Linked DNA regions of Homo sapiens: region 2 is linked to region 1. Evidence: fine-mapped expression QTL. Tissue or cell type: monocytes. Region 1 holds a variant in brackets; the other region holds the start of a gene. All regions are shown on one strand. Distances are from middle to middle.

Region 1 (8,175 bases):
GCTGCTGAAGCCCCACCGCCGTATGTTCCTGCCAGGGAGGCTTTTGGGTGTTCATCTGACCCAGGTCTCTCTTCTCACTGCTGCAGAGCCTGAGCTTCCAGGACCGTTGCGGGCGCCCTGTCTGCAGGGGGCTAGCCAGGTTTCCTCACATCGTGGGGGCCCCAGGTGTCCCTTCAGCTTCCCAGAGGTTTGCTGGGGGAACAGGATGTAGCGCCTACCCCACCCTGGGCATCTGCCATCAGGTTTCTTCCTCTCCTTGAGTTCACTTCTGCCACTCCCAGTCCTGGCCACACACTGAAGCTCCCTGTCACCCGCCCTGCCTGTGACAACCTCCTGCGCTACCACACACCCTTACTCCCGTTCTCCCTCTTCGCACTCCCAGGACTCACCCAAGCCCAGGGTTGCCCCTGCTACCCCCTCACTGCCCCCGGCCCCTCCTGAATGCCAGGTCCCCCTGTCCTCCTGCTCCGCGTCACCTCAGCCTTGAAGCCACAGTCTTCCTGCATCACACCAAGCTCGCCCCTCCCCATTGTTCCCTATAGGCCTTGGTGACACGGACATCCACCCAGTCTCCTGCAGCCATGGCTGAACCACGTCCCTCTTCCTCAGCCCGTGCAGAGCGTCCTGTAGGCCTTACTTTGTGCCTCTCACCCCCAGCCCCACCCCGCCTCTTGCTCTCGTGCCTGGGCTTTGTGGTGGCTGACCTCTTCACTCCCGATCCTCTCCCCTTCCTGTCCATCCTTCTATTCCCCTGCAGACAGGGTCTCACTCTGTCACCCAGGCTGGAGTGCAGTGGCACTATCACAGCTCACTGCAGGCTTGAGCTCCCCGGGCTCAGGCAATCCTTTCACCTCAGCCTCCTTAATAGCTGGGACCACAGATGAATGCCACCATGCCCAGCTAATGTTTTTGTATTTTTTTGTAGAGATAGGGTTTTGCCATGTTGCCCAGGCTGGTCTCAAATTGCTGGGCTTAAGCAGTCCTCCCGCCTCAGCCGCCCAAAGTGCTGGGAATGCAGGCGTGAGCTGCCCTGGGAATACAGGTGTGCCCAGCCCTTCCTGTCCATTCTCCCGGGCTCTAGAATCACCTGTAGAGTGTTTTTGCAGTGCCAGTTTCCTGGCCGCACCCCTGGAGACTCTGATTCTCACCCCTTGGGCTCAGGATCTGTGCTTTTCTCACTCCCCAGGGCAGCCTGAGCAGGAGGCAGGGCTGAGAACTGCCAGAGTAGGAATCAAGGCCATCCTTGGGTGACCAGGCAGACTGGGCCCTCGACAACCCTGCCGTCCTGTGTCCACCCTGGTTCTCTCCCTGCCACTCTCCTTCCCAGACTGGCTGGATGTATTAAAATATATTTGCCGTAGGCCAGGTGCAGTGGCTCACGCCTGTAATCCCAGCACTTTGGGAGGCCGAGGCAGGTGGATCACCTGAGGTCAGGAGTTTGAGACCAGTCTCGCCAACATGGTGAAACCACATCTCTACCAAAAATACAAAAGTTAGCTGGGCATGGGGACATGTACCTATAATCCAGGTACTTGGGAGGTTGAGGCACGAGAATCACTTGAACCCAGGAGACGGAGGTTGCAGTGAGTCGAGATGGCGCCACTGCACTCCAGCCTGGGTGACAGAGCGAGACTTCATCTCAAAAAATCAAATAAAAAAAAAATATATATATATTTTTATATATTTATATATATATACACATATACAATCCACACACTGCAAGTACTTAGCACTCCCTCACTGCCCTGGGAAATGTCCTGGGTTTTTCCTTCATGCTTTTTGCCTGTTATATTTCTTCTTTTTGGAAACTCCCCTGACCTCCCACCCATCTTGTGGGCCAGATCCTCTGCATCTCATGACGGGCTTCCTGGCTTCCCCGATTCCCCGGCAGAGGGATTCTTCTCAGCCCGAGCCATCACCGAACCCGGTTCCCAGCACTCCTGTCTCTGTTGGAAGTGGCTTTGCAGGGTTGCTGTGGAAGACCATCTCTTCTCCTGGGCTGTGGGCTCCGAAGAGCAATAAGACCACTTCTTTTTCCTTGATGACCTAGCATGAGGCCTGTCTTGAAGAATAAAAGTTGTTTTCTCACTTGGCCCACCATGTGGAAAGGAGTATTTTCTTAGAGAAAGAAAGGGAGAAAATGTTTTTCCCAAGTCTGCCGTCAGGCCCATATCCGGGTCACAGTGAATGCGCTTTGCCTCTTAGAATCAACGTGCATTGAACTCTTTGTCCTTTTTTAACAAGATGCAGTAACCATAGGACAGCTGTGTGATTACTGGAGTGTTTCTGGAAGACGTGGGGTCGCATTTCTTTGTGGTCTCAGTCACTGTGGAGAGGCACGGGGGCTGCTACGTGGCTCGGGGCAGGGGCTTCTCTGGCTCATGCAAAGGCCCTACCTCCTGCATCCCCGTCTAGAGAAGGTCCCTTCAGGAGCAGCCCTGTGCACATGGATCCCTCCTGGGGCAAGTGTCTTCCTAAAGAGGCCAGGCCTGAGACACAAGCCAGCTGGCCAGAAGTGACGCTGGGCGGCTTCAGCTGAGGCATTTTCGTCTTAGGGGATGCTTTTAGAGTCACTTATAGCATCTATGGGATCTGGCCACATACCTTGTCCCAACTTTGCCATAAGTACAAATAACCTGTGAGTCTAAAGGACTCGTTTGAGAAAGGTTCCGGCTTGGGGGATTCTTTGAGCCTGGGCATGGTAGCACCATAATGGCAAGAATGAAGAGATGAAGAAGAGGGGGAAGTTTTCTTCCCTTACCCCATACAAACATTTACTTACCATGAGGTCCAGCTGCATGCACTCTAGATGGGTCACATATACGGCCACTGTGTTGCCATTTGTAGGGGAAGGGGTTAGGTAGTTGGCAGAGGGATGGGTTGGGTCCTTGGAAAGAGCCTGTTGAGTTGATTGATTGAATTTATTTTACTGATGAGGAAATTTCTTTTGGTCCACCATGGGGGAGCATAAATCCTCATTGTTTCCTCGCTTGCAGGGAAGATGCTGGGCCAAGCGGCTTTTGACACCCAGTATCTCTGCCTAGTTCTGCTACTCACAGAGCCACCCAGTTCCCTCATAGACCAGCTCACCTTCTGTGAGGCAAGAGATTATCCTCTTGAGAAGGTGGGGCCCGTGCATGTGATTCCTTCTAATGGAAAGGGCTGCCTTGCTCAGCTCCTCATGCCCTGCGAGACCAGCGATCTTCCATTTTTAATCCTTGATTTCAACGAATGGCTCCATGGGGCCTCCTCAGAGCCAGGCACCAACAGACAGAGCCCCGGGAGCTCACAGAGTGGAGGCAGAGGCCATGCGCTGAGGCACAGCCACATGGCCCAGCCCCAGCTAGCAGAAAGCAGCCAGTTCTCTGTCTATAGTGGCCAAAGAATCTTTGATCCTGGAAGGTTCCTCTAAACCTGTGGTTCTGTCCCCTGGCTCAGAAATGATCCATTGTGGCTGCTTATTAAAAATGTCTGGTTGGCTAATTAGCTTTCTTTTCTGAATGTCCATTAAGAGTCAGATTTCAGTCTCATAAGCGTAACTATCACATATCTGTGCGCCACAAAAATTCCGCAAGCTGTGACAAAAAGATTCATGATGATTGTGATAACGATAGCTGGTGTTTATTGATTAGGCACTCTGGAGAATCTCATTTTTCCTCATGACAGTTCTGGAAAGTGAGAATTACTTAAGCACAGAGAGTTCAAGTGACTTGGCCAAGGTTACACAGCTAGTAAGGAACGAACCAGGAATCACACTTAGATTTTGTCTGTTTCAAAAACCAACACCCATCATCAGTCCTAATCACCGTGCTGTGGCAGAGATGGCCTTTTACTAAGAGACTGTGAGATGTTCCTAATTGTTTTTTCTTTCCTTGTTCAGTGTGACAACATCTGGGGTGATGGAAAGTATGAAGAAAGTCAAGAAGGTGACCAACGGCTCCGTGGAGCCCCAGGGCGAGTGGGAAGGCGCCGTGTGACAGAGCCGACCCTGAGGATGGCACTGTCCAAGGAAACTGTTAACTTATTCATAGTCCTATTGGACAGCAGGAGCAGCTCCTACAGTGAACTATTGGCACCACCGACAGTGACACCAGGGCACATGGCTGGAGCACAGTGCCGCGGAAACCTGATTTTGTACTCTCTTTTATGGAAACGATCTGTGGCTGTTTAGAGGCAGCTGGATCCTCTTTCAGGCGGGAATGGGAGGGCGGGCACAGGGAGGAGGAGAGGAAGAGAAAAGGAAGAATTCATTTTTAATTTAGGTTTCTTTTTTTCTTCTTCATTTCGGAGCTCTAAGGTGTATGCAGTTGTGACCCCATGTGTGGGGAAGTGTAGCAAGGACGGCTGGTGGAGGGGGAAGGAGGGTGCGAGGTGTCTGTCTGATGCTTTAGGAAATGTCTACTGAGGACCCTGGGACTTAAGAAGAAGGGCGGGGAGAGTGCCATTGCCTGTTTGGGAGACAAAAATGAACGAA[AACAGGTG/A]ACTTTGGAAAGCAAAGTCAAAACCCAGTTTAGGATGTAGCACCTGCCCCAGGATTCCTGCCCTCGGCTTTGCCCCAGACCCTTATTCCAGATGCTGAGAGTGACCAGGACAGCAGCTCCTGAGGCCCAGTGGTCTTCTTTCCAACAGGAAAAGAAGGCTGTGATGTCGCTGTCAGGATCATGCCCTGTGGCACAGCACAGGTGGTGGGAGGTGGTTTTCTGACTGAGATGTTGCCTGATGGATGGAAAGAAATGTATTTTTAAGTTCAAAAAGCATTATCCTGTGGCGTTGCCTGGACATCCACTCCCTGACAGCCCAGAGCAGCACTGTCTGGCTTCCCTTCATGCTTGTGGCTTTGTTGTGTTTGATCAGAATTTTGGGGGAAATGGAAAGTTTTCCTCAAGGAGCAGCTGGGGGCAGAATAGGTAGTATTTAAGCAAATACTTAAGTCCAAGCAAATCATCCCCATTAAAAAGCTTTTCCTGTAGGCTAGTAGGATTTCTAAATAGATGAATTCAACAGACTTGGTCCCCATAGTCCAAGAGTATGTATGTGAAGAAAGTGAGCATGATTCAACAGTTTCACTCTCAGGGATTTTAGGATGGCAAAATACTTCACAGAAACTCAATGATTAAGTTCCCTTCCACACTTCCAGAGCTTGAATGAACACAGGTAGCCACCTAAATTGAGCAGTATTGCAACTCAGAGAGAAAATCATCTGAATAGTAGGACAAGCTCAGAAGGTACATTGTGACTGAGGGCTTAAAAGGAGACCAAAACATGGCCCCATCAGGGAAGCTTCTTAATGCTTGGGGGGCCAGCTAGGTAGGGTTGCTTCCAAAAGCTGGAGCCCACCCCTGCCTAGGGGTTGTCAGAGAGCCACACCTGCAGGGGAACAGGTACCTCCGAGGGTGAGAGTCGTGGTCTCTGGGAGTTGTTTTCTCACCTCTGGCTTAGAAGGGTCAGGCAGAAACCACAGGATGTGGGGTCACACTCACTGTCCCAAGTTTGGGAACCTGAAAAAGTCTCCATTCAGAACATGGTTGTTCTCCCTGTCCCATGCTATCTTATCTTCCTAAATGACTAATGAGGAAGCGGGTGTTCTTTTTCTGCACTTTGATTCGCCATCTGGGTTCTGTAGGGTGCTCTGAAGGTGTGATCTGCCTTCTGGCTGATGTGGAGGAAGAGCAAGCGCCTTCCCAGGCCACAGCTGCTCACCTCTCGGCAGATATTTTAGGCAAGCATCCGTGTGTCTTCCCATCTTCAGGAGAAAGGTAAATGCACCCTAAGTGTTCACTTCTGGACCTTTTTCAAGTTCACTTGGGACTGTGTGACAGAAGGGAGTTGGAGGGAGGATGGGAATATTTTTAACACTTTGTTTTCCTGTGCAGAAACATAATACCAGTTTTCGCAGAAATGTGTCTCAATCTGTGACTACCAAAGCCCTCCTCAGTCCTTCCCTCAGAGGGACACATTTGCTGTTTCTCCCGCAAGCAGATGTTGTGGATGAGGCGATAGACTCCTTGGCAAGAACGAAAGGTGTGATGAAACCTCCCTGCTCGGAAGGGTCTCCGTGGAGGTGTCCTCATTTCACATGCTGGGTTTTGCAAGCGAGGAAGCCAGGCAGTGGAGGAACTAGAGAGAGGCAGGCGTGTGTGTGGACAAGCGCTGGAGCCGCAGCCCTCAGACTGGCACGGGAACGCCAGCGTTGGGTGTTCAGATTCCACGCGTATGTCTGGGCTCACTCACAGCATGGCCGAGTGTCTGCAGTGCTGGTCCTGACCCTTCCAGAGCAGCAGTGGACAGATGAGATAAGACTGTTTCAGAAACAAAGATGGCCACAGCCTTCCTAACAAGCAGGTCATCTGGCCATGTCTGTATTGTAACTGGTAAAAGGCTTCAAGTCAGATTGATGATCAAGAAAAGTCAAAACCCCAGCCCAAGATTGGGAAAGCAGGTGGTGGTTCCAAGCTTTTAAAAAATTATTGAAGCTCTCCATCCTGTTCTGTGAGTGTGTCTTCTCTTTCTCCTTCACGTCATAGCCGTGACCCACCGTTCATCTCTGCTCTTGCGTAAAGATGACCGATGGAGTCCAAAGCCAAGTGGCTTCACCAGCTGACAAGCCACCCTCCTGCAGCCTGAGTTTCACAGTCCACTGGGTTCGTTGTCATGCGGTGTTTGAATGGTTAAGCCCTTGCAGTATTTCAGATCGGGCAAAAAATATCGGATGCACATAGCAGAACCATTGGTGGTATTTATAGCTTTGCTTTGTACTCCTCACTGTTTCTGCCTACGCAAAATATCCATGTTTCCTCTGAGAAATCTGTTGTGGACTGAAAGCGCTGCTGGCTGTGAAATTTAATAAAGTGTGTATGCTTTGCTAGAAAATTATTTCTTGGACAATAGGAACAGTCATTGATCTGTAAATCCTGGCTCTTAACAGTGAGTGGCCAAGGACTTGATCAGCCCATTTCTTGGTCCCTCAGTGCTTTAAAATTTAAGTAGCACTGCATTTTGTAATGTTGAATATGACTCTAGTGACTTGTAGGAGGCACTTGTGAGGAGATGCTTGCTTCAGTGTAAAAGATGCTCATGGCCTGAGTCAGTTGAGTTTTCTTTCAAGAAACCACTTCAGAGTGAAATATCCAGGGTTTCCCCGCCCTGGACATGTCCAGCCTGCCCAGGCAGCACACAGCCCTGTAAGTCCACCTCGTGTGGGTGAGATTTCCTCCTGCGTGATGACCTCATCGCCATCTCTGCTGTCTCATTCCACAGCCTCCCTCCCTCTTCTCTCCTCCTCTGCCCTCGCCCTTCCCCCTTCCCCATCCCCTCCCCCTCCTCCTCTGCCCTCGCCCTTACCCCTCCCCCTTCCCCTTCCGCTCCTCCTCCCTCCTCCACCTCTTTCTCCTCCTCCTTCCCTCCTCCTCCCTCCTCTTCCCTTCTCTGCCATCTTTCTCCCCGTGCCTATTGATCCCACATAGGCTCATTCTGGGTACACCGGCTAAAGGCTTTGGTGCATTGCAGCGTTTTCTCCCAGCAGCTGTGTGAAAGATGCATTTTCTAAGCTAAGGAGAATTTTCTCAAGAGTGGCATACTCATGCCAAATATTATTGCTCTGGGCCATATAGGCTGGTCTTCCTCCACACTAAAATGGGTGTCTTGTTTTGGTACTTAAAACAGTCTACTCCAGGCATCCAGTCCTTACAGACCAAGGAAGAGCATAGCGATGCCTGTTGGAATTGCAGATGCATTCTGGCCTTCTCCCCCGTCCTGAAACATTTTCTTTGAGGAAGGCTCTTAGAACATTAGATAGTCTGCTGAGGTTGTTGGCCCAGCTCCATACACCCAGTAGAACAGTGGAACAACTCATGCTTCATGCTGCCAAGCTGCTGTACTTCAAAGGAAACAGATCTAGCACACTGCTGCACCCCTGCTTCCACACTCCACACTTCACCCCGCTGCTTTTCTCTGACCCGCCCCTGGCCTTGTAAGACTCACGTAAGCTAAGTCCAGGATGCCTGTGGCCTGCGGCTTGATTCTTCCCTTTAGGATTCAGCAAGTTAATGGCTTCCTCGCTATAGAAGTGAGACTTTGACTTGATGCCTCTTGGTATATCAAAAAGATATTCATCCAGAAAGTACCAAATGTTCTGAAAGACCCGCTCTTCACTCCAGTTTTCCCTAGGGTGTTTCT
Region 2 (8,175 bases), 37 kb after region 1:
GACCTCATCCTGTCTCAAGACTTTAAAGGGCATGTCTGCCAGGATGGCTCCCAGTGCATACCTGCAGCCTGGACCTGTCCCTGAACTCCAGACGCCTGTGCCACCTGCTTTCTCCCGTCACCACTTGGACATCTGGTAAGCATTTCACACCTCACCTGTCTGCAGTAAGATTCCAGCTCTTCCTGTCCAAACCTGTCCACTCCCCATCTTAGCAAATAGAAACCCCACTCTTCCATAAGCTCAGCTCAGAAAGCCCGGCCTTGTCCTTGAGTCCCCTCTCTCCGTCTCATACCTTCCAGCCCCCAAATGTCTCTCCTGCCTTCCAGCCCCCAAATGTCTCTCCTGCCTTCCAGCCCCAAATGTCTCTCCTGCCTCTAAGCATACTCCATCCACTCCTGCTTTCCCCTGAAGCCCCTGCCCAGGCTGACCCCCGGGCCCCAGGAAGTCTTCAGATGGGGATGGACTTGCTGGCCTGGAGGAGCTCATTCTGCAGAGGAGGTAGGATGGGCCTCAGCTGGAGGGATCTGGTGTAGACTTGGGAGCAGAATGTCTCCCAACCTTGAAGACCAACTCAGAGGAGACAGCAGTGAGGGAATCCTGCTCTCACTACCCTCAAAATGTCACCGAGTCTAGCCAGTTCTGTGTCCTCCAAGGCCACACTACACGTGGCCACCACCACCTCCTGGCTGATGATACAGTGACCTCTGGCAGTTCCCCATTCTTACCCATCTGTGCCTGGAGTCAGTTCTCCCTGCAGCAGCAGCTGAAGGGGCCGGCTAAGCACATCAGATCCCTTGAGTCGGGAGTCTGACCTTGCCTCCCCACTCTGCACCTCGCCCTTTAAAGCCCACCTTACTGTACCCCTGCAAGGCCACACACAAGGCTGTACGTGGGCCAGCTGGGCTCCACCTGGGCTCTGCCACGGGGCCTGGGCGATGCTCCCCCTCTGCTCTCAGTGAGGCTCCTTCTCTAGCCAACACCACACACCTCCGGCCCTCAGCCCTTCCCATTTTCCTTCCCGCCTCATTTTTCTTCTTTCACCTGTGAGATACATTCTACTCATGCAGCGTATTTATGGTTTCTTTTTTCTTTTCTTTTCCTTCCTTCCTTCCTTCCTTCCTTCCTTCCTTCCTTCCTTCCTTCCTTCTTTCCTTCTTTCTTTCTTTCTTTCAGACAAAGTCTTGCTCTGTCACTCAGGCTGGAATGCAGTGGTGCGATCTCAGCTCACCACAACCTCTGCCTCCCAGGTTCAAGTGATTCTCCTGTCTCAGCCTCCCAAGTAGCTGGGACTACAGGCGTGCACCACCATGCCCGGCTAATTTTTGTATTTTTAGTAGAGACGGGGTTTCATTATGTTGGCCAGGCTGGTCTTGAACTCCTGACCTCGTGATCCGCCCGCCTTGGCCTCCCAAAGTGCTGGGATTACAGGCATGAGCCACTGCGCCCCCGTGTTTCTGGTTTCTATGCTGCACTTATGCATGTTGTTTATTGTTTATAGCACTCTCCCCTCACGAAAGTGTAAGGTCCCTGATGGCAGGGATCTGGTCTATGTCCCCAGGGCACATAGTAGGTGCTTAGTAAACATGTCCCGAATGATGGGATGAATCTGTGAAGTCCCTGAGTTCCTTGGCAGGTGTTCCCATGTATGTTCCCCCACCCTCTCCATTCCTTGCATGGTGTTTGTTGCCAGTGTGATTTTGTGATCGCTGTGCAGCAGGTCGGGTCAGATCCGTGAGCTCCCATGTTGGTCTCAGTGCCCAGCACGGCACCTGGCACAGGGGCAGTGAGCAAGAAATACTCACAGGATGAGTACCTGGGTTTCTTGTGTGTGTGTGTGAATGCATGTGAGTGTGTGAGTGTGTGTGTGTGTGTGTTGAGACAGGGTCTCATCACCTAGGCTGGAGTACAGTGGTGCCAACAGGGCTTACTTCAGCCTCTACCTCCTAGGCTCAAACAATCCTCCTGCCTCAGCCTCCCGAGTAGCTGAGACTACAGGCATGTGCCACCATGCCCAGTTAATTTTTTTTTGTATTTTTTGTAGGAATGGGGTTTCACCATGTTGCCCAGGCTGGTCTTGAACTCCTGAGCTCGAGCCATCCACCTGCCTTGTCCTCCCAAAGTGCTGTGATTATAGGCATGAGCCACCATGCCTGGCCTGCCTTCCCTCCCTCCCTCCCTTCCTTCCCTCCTTCCTTCCTTCCTTTCTCTTTCTTTTTTTCTCTTCTCTTTTCATGTGTGTGTGTTTGTGTGTGTGTGTGTGTGTGAGAGAGAGAGAGAGAGAGAGAGTCAGGGTCTTTCTCTGTCACCCAGGCTGGAATGCAGTGGCACAATGACGGCTCACTGCAGCCTCGCCCTGCTGGGTTCAAGTGATCCTTCCACTTCAGCCACCCGAGTAACGGGGAGTTAGGCATGTGTCACCAAGCCCAGCTAACTTTTAAAAATTTTTGTAGAGATGAGGTCTCCCCTGTCAGGCTGGTCTTGAACTCCTAAGCTCAAGTAATCCTTCCACCTCAGCCTCTCAAAGTGCTGGGATTACCAGCATGAGCCACTGCACCCAGCCTGAGCACCTGGGTTTCTAAAGGGCTTTAACTACTACTGCTGTCATCCAGCCAGGCCCTGGTTCCCGTGCTGGCTCTCCCTCCTCCCAGGCAGGATGCTCAGCACAGTCTGGTCAACTGTTAGCCCCCCACTGTGGGCCCCTCACTGCTGTCCACTCTGAGTTGGTCCTCAAGGTTGGGACATTCTGCTCCCAGGTCTACACCAGATCCCTCCAACTGGGCCCACCTCCTCTGCAGAATGAGCTCCCCAAGCCAGCAAGTCCATCCCCATCTGAAGACTTCCTGGGGCCTGGGGCTCAGCCTGGGCAGGGGCTTCAGGGGAAAGCAGGAGTGGATGGAGTATGCTTAGAGGCAGGAGAGATATTTGGGAGCTGGAAGGCACTCGGCCCTGCTCAGGGTTCCTCTGAGCTTTCTGGACCCTCCGAGGTTAGAACACTGTGGAAAGAAGGGAGAAAGAGACCCCACTCCTGCCTCATCCCTGCTAGCCCCGGGGAGGGCTGCCTCATCCTCCCCGCTCTCTCCCCTACCCCAGGGCCCCAGCACCGGGTGTCATTCTTTCCTCCGTCCTTCGCTCATTCACAGAGATTTGCTGGGTAACACCTCAGGCGGCCTTCTGGGTTATGGAGATGCCTCTGCCCTCTGGGAGGGTGTTCTCCCATGGAAGAGACAAACAGGATGCAGAAAACATAGGTGACGTTTGTGATGGATGTGAAGGAGAGAAACTAAAGCCGAAAAGGATAGGAGAGTTCTCAAGATATGATGATATGTTGGATGAGGTGGACCGGGAAGGCCATGCTGGACCTACCACCTGAACCACACCCCCCTACGCGAATCCACTGGCCTCTGTCCATTCAGGTGGAGCCTGTCACCCCAGCCTCGGCTCAGAGAAACAGCTCTGAGCAGCTCTGACCTGTCACTCCAGCAGCTCTGACCCATCACTCTCTGCTGAAGTCCTTTCATGGGCGCTGGTGGGCAGGGGCCCAGCTCCTCGGCGAGGGGCCTCTCCTGGCCTGCCCCGTGGGCCCTGCCCTTCTCCCAGGTCCCCTGTGCCTGCAGCCGTGCGCAAGCCCGCAAGCCGGGGAACTCTCCCTCGGGCATGCAGGCCTCCCCGCCTCTCCAGGTTGCCTGGGCCAGAACGCTTCTCCATCCACCTCCCTTCCTGACCCTGGGTTTGGAGGTCTCCTGCCCCCAGGCCGAGAGTAGGTGCTCCCACCGCTACCTGCCGCATCCCGCACAGCCCCCTGCCCGCCCTGCGAGGGCTGGGGCACTCCTGTCCCGTGGGCCGCCGTGTCCCCGGCACCCCATGAATCCGTGTCGAATGAATGAATGTCTCCGGGCCGGGACCTGGCCTCATTCACATCCGATCTTCCGGGCCCTCCCCGCCGCGGCGGGGGCCGGAGCGCCAGGGCTGGATTCGGGGAGGGGGTGGCGGGGGTGGCTGCCCCGCCCTGGGGCCGCGTTGAGCCGAGGGGACGCCCCTCCGGCTGGCTGGCGAGGCCGGGGTCCAGCTGGCGGAGGCCGCGGCCAGGCGGGTGCGGGGCGGGAGGTGGCGCCGGGCGCTGAGTGGCGGCTCCGGGTCCACCCCTGGCGCGCGGGTGCGGGCGGGAGGGGGGAGGCGGGAGGCGGGGAGCGCAGGGGCGGCGGCAGGCGGGAGGCAGCAGCGAGCATGTGCCGCGGAGCCCAGTAACCAGGGACGACCGCGGCCACACCGCGCCGGCGCCGGCGCCCAGCCCAGGCAGCCCCGCGCCGCGGCGCCCGGACCGCCCGGGCCTGCCCAGCGGCCGCCCCACGCCCCGGGCGCCCCGGCGCCGACAGCCGCGCAGCGCAGCGCGGGCGCCGCAGACAAAGGCGCGGCCCCGGCCCGGCCCGCCCGGCCCAGCCGCTCCTGCTGGGCGCCCCAACCGGGTCCGGCCCGGGGGGGCGGGGGCCGCGGCCGCCGAGGATGGGGAAATCCAACAGCAAGTTGAAGCCCGAAGTTGTGGAGGAGCTGACCAGGAAGACCTACTGTGAGTGCTCCCAGCCCCCAGCCCGCGCCCCGCGGTCACCCCCACACCCACCGCCCCCGCCCCCGCCCCCCGGACCCGCGCGCTACCCGCTCCGCGCTGCCGCCTCCGCTCCGTCCTCCCCGCCCGGCCTCCAATGTGGACCCCTCGGAGGTTCCCGGGCCGCGCCCCTGCCCCCCGCCCGGCCCCATTGTTCTGGCACCCCCAGCCCGGGGAGTGCGCGCCGGTCGGCGTGCGCGGCGCCACCCCTAGGTCCGGAGGGGCAGCCCCAGCCCCCTGGCGGCCCCCTCTCCGCAGAGCTGTCCCAACGGGCAGGGGCTGTTGCCAGGGTGGGGCGGTGGTCCCGGGAGGGGGCGCCCGGCTGCGCGGAGCCGACTGGCACGAGCGCGCGGGGCTGGTGATTCATGCATCACGATGCCGCCGCCGCCGCTGCTGCGAGATTGGCCTGTCGCCCCCTCCCTGGCCCCGTTCGTGTGGGGGGGGGGGTGGCGAGACTTGGCACAGCGCTCGTCGTGCGGTGACGGCGGTGAAGGGTCCCCGGCACCCTGTGGGTTGCAGCACTTACAGGCTGGATTCTCCCTGGCCCCATCTCTGTCTGCCACACCGGGAAGTGGGTTTCTACAGCCCGGGTCATCTGGGCCGCGTGTGATCATTAGCTGTCGCGGGCTGCCCGGAGGAGGATGGCCTGTCCTTTCTGGGCGTCTCCAGATCAGCCTCAGTGTGTCTCCCTCCACTTGCCTAACTTCACAACTCTGCAGTCCCCTTGCAGTCCTAGTTTCTCCATACCAGGCTTCCCCCTTCCCTGCAGCCTCTCCGGAGGTGCCCTGGCATACCAGGGGTTAATGGTAATGGGTCCAGACCACCCAGGGGATTGCCAGAGGGAAGGCTTCAGCATCGGGGTCTGGAAGGACCTCTGCCTGGGTGTTTGACTTGGAAGGGGACAGTGGTTCTGGGCTTGGGTTGGAATTCAGAACCCATCCCCGGGCAGCTGCGTGGGCCCAGGCCCTCTGCACCACCCCTGGAGGCAGCAGCTTGACCGCCAGCCCCATGTGTTGATGGAGGCTGGGGAGGCAGCTCCTGGTGGTGCATTGCACAACCTCTGCTCCCCGCTTCCCCCCACTCCATCGGCCTTCTGGGCACGTCTGCAGGTCTGTCCAAGCCCACGCTTCAGCTCCATGCCCCTCACCCCTCATGCTTGGAACAAAGGGGGCTTTCCTGAGCGGGTGCTAGTCTGCTGCGAGGTGCTGGCCCTTCTCCTGTGGAATCCTGCAGCATGGAGCTCACATCCCAAGAGCTGCTACCTGGAAGGGGTGAAGCCCCTGGGCACAGGGGCTGTTCTCACCCTCTCTCCAAGGTGGGCAGGTGGGTGGCCCATTCCAGTCTGGCTGCTGTTTTGTGAGATTCGCTGGGGACTCCTTCAAGCTAAGTCCAGATGTGGCCCACAGCCGCCAGCAGGTGGACTTCCTGGGTCCCTGTGCCGGGGGAGGGTGAGGACACCGTGGGCTCCATCAGGAGTGGTGGGCATGGGCTGCACGGGATGCCTCCATCATGGTGGGACAGGGGAGTGAAGCCAGGTTTCCTGCTCATCGAGCATGTCACGTGCCAAGCTCTTGGCATCATTAGCACCTCGACTCTGCCACAACTGCTCTACCAGGCTGGGTGCTGCTACGATCTCCATTTACAGATGGGGAAACTAAGGCTCAGAGGGGCAAAGTGGCATTCCCATGATCCCACAGCTAGTGACCAGGCAGTGCCAGGACTTGAACTCCGGTCTGTCCTGCTCCAAGGCTAGTGAGAGACTTCAGAGCTCGTGCCAAGAGCTCTTCTGGGCCAGGCACAGTGGCTCACGCCTGTAATCCCAGCACTTTGGGAGGCCGAGGCGGGTGGACCAGCCTGACCAACGTGGAGAAACCCCCATCTCTACTAAAAATACAAAATTAGCTGGGCATGGTGGCACATGCCTGTAATCCCAGCTACTCGGGAGGCTGAGGCAGGAGAATCGCTTGAACCTGGGAGGCGGAGGTTGCGGTGAGGTGAGATTGCTCCAAGAGGGAAACTCTGTCTCCAAAAAAAAAAAAAAAAAGCTCTGCTGGGTGTCTTTTTCTGGCTTTTGCTAGAAGCCCATGATGGTGGATTCTAAATGGGAAGGGCCTGGGGTGATAGTCCTGTCCGGCCCCCTCCTCCGGGCAGATCTGTCAACTTTAAGAGAAGTTGAGTCAACAAAGCTTTGTTAGGAACTGGCCCTTGTGGTGCTGGGCTGGGCTATTTTTAAAGGCCTTTGGAGACGTGGAACAGTTTTGGGCAGAGAGAGAGTTGGCCTGGGTACTTTTCCTCTGTCGAAGCCCTTATTAGGGGTGGGCCGTTGGAGGTGGCGGTGGGTTCATTGGCCTCCTGTCTGCCTCCCGCGCTGACGTCAGCTCCCTAGTGCAGGCCCTTGTGTGTGGAGCTCACAGCTGTGTTCCCCCCATGTGTTGGCCTTTAGTAGGTTCACAGAATGAAAAGTCTCCCAACAGGACAAGCAGAGAAAGCTTCCAGCTTGTTCTCCCGCCCCCAGATGGGCTTCCTTCTGATGGGGAGTGGAGCCATCTGCTCTTTGTTCTGGGGGATTCTGTGTATGGGGTCAAGAGAAGCGCCCCAGGAAGGACTCTCAAATGTCAGAATCTCCTGGTTGATTAATAAACATGAAGGTACCTGGGCTGCCCTCCCGGATTTCCGATTCTTTAGGTCTGGCTGGGGCCCAGGAATTTGCATCCTTGACACGTGTTTGTGCTGCAGATGGTGGTCCTGGGGAGCCCGGATTGAAGACCACAGTTCCAGTGTATGCTGGGGGTCCTAGCCCACCTCATGCATAGCTGGCCACAGTGCCAAGGGGGCCTAGAGGGGAGCCATGGGTCCACGTCCGAGTCGGTGCTGGGCAGTGTCCTTGGTGGGCGTCTCTGGCTCTGTCTGTGGTGGTCTGTGTGTGTGAGGAAGCAGGAGTGTCTAAAGGCCCCAGCAGTGTGGCCCTCACTGGACACACTGGGATTCCACCTGGCTCAAACCCTAACCCAGTCCTCAGCCTTCCACCAGCAACAGGTTAGGGAGAGATGGACAGGGTCACTCTGCAGCCAAGACTTAGACAGTGGCAGTCAGCATTGCGGGCGGCCCAGTTTCTTTCAGGTCTGGCCCACTCTCTTCCAACCTGCTGGTGAGGCTGTTGGCTTCCCCGTGTGTCCCGGCTGTGGGATGGGCCGGTCCCCTCACCTACCTGAGCCTCAGTTTCCTCATCTGCAAAATAGGTGTGCTCATGGCACCTGAACTCAGAGGATGTGAGAAGTCAACAGGGTAACTCATGTGCAGTGTGGGGCCTGATATGTGGCGTGGGGTATGTGGTCAGTAAATGCCAGTGATCGTAATTAATGCTTATTTGTTCATTTTCTTTCTTTCTTTCTTTCTTTCTTTCTTTCTTTCTTTCTTTCTTTCTTTCTTTCTTTTTTTTTTTTTTTGGAGACAGGGTCTGGCTGTGTTGCCCTGACTGGAGTGCAATGGTGCAATCATGGCTCACTTAAACCTTGACCTCCTGGGTCCAAGCAATCCTCCTGCCTCAGCCTCCCCAGTAGCTGGGACCATGGGTG

The links. PIP is the estimated chance that this variant, and not a neighbour inherited with it, causes the effect.
Region 2: NCS1 starts here. The variant in region 1 is fine-mapped to the expression of NCS1 in monocytes (Quach 2016, PIP 0.95).

The regions. Positions count from the first base shown.
Region 1 is chr9:130,131,145-130,139,319 of GRCh38, forward strand. GPR107 (G protein-coupled receptor 107) reads left to right here. Exons shown (of 18, transcript NM_020960.5): 18 at 3,881-8,175. The coding sequence ends at 3,977. Among named protein-coding and RNA genes, the nearest start is that of GPRACR, 9.0 kb to the right of the region's middle. The variant AACAGGTG/A (reference allele first, on the strand shown) is at 4,475.
Region 2 is chr9:130,168,164-130,176,338 of GRCh38, forward strand. It overlaps NCS1 (neuronal calcium sensor 1), which reads left to right and starts at 4,241. Exons shown (of 8, transcript NM_014286.4): 1 at 4,241-4,564. The coding sequence starts at 4,501. RefSeq lists enhancers at 3,355-4,143, 5,605-6,515 and a silencer at 4,218-4,307.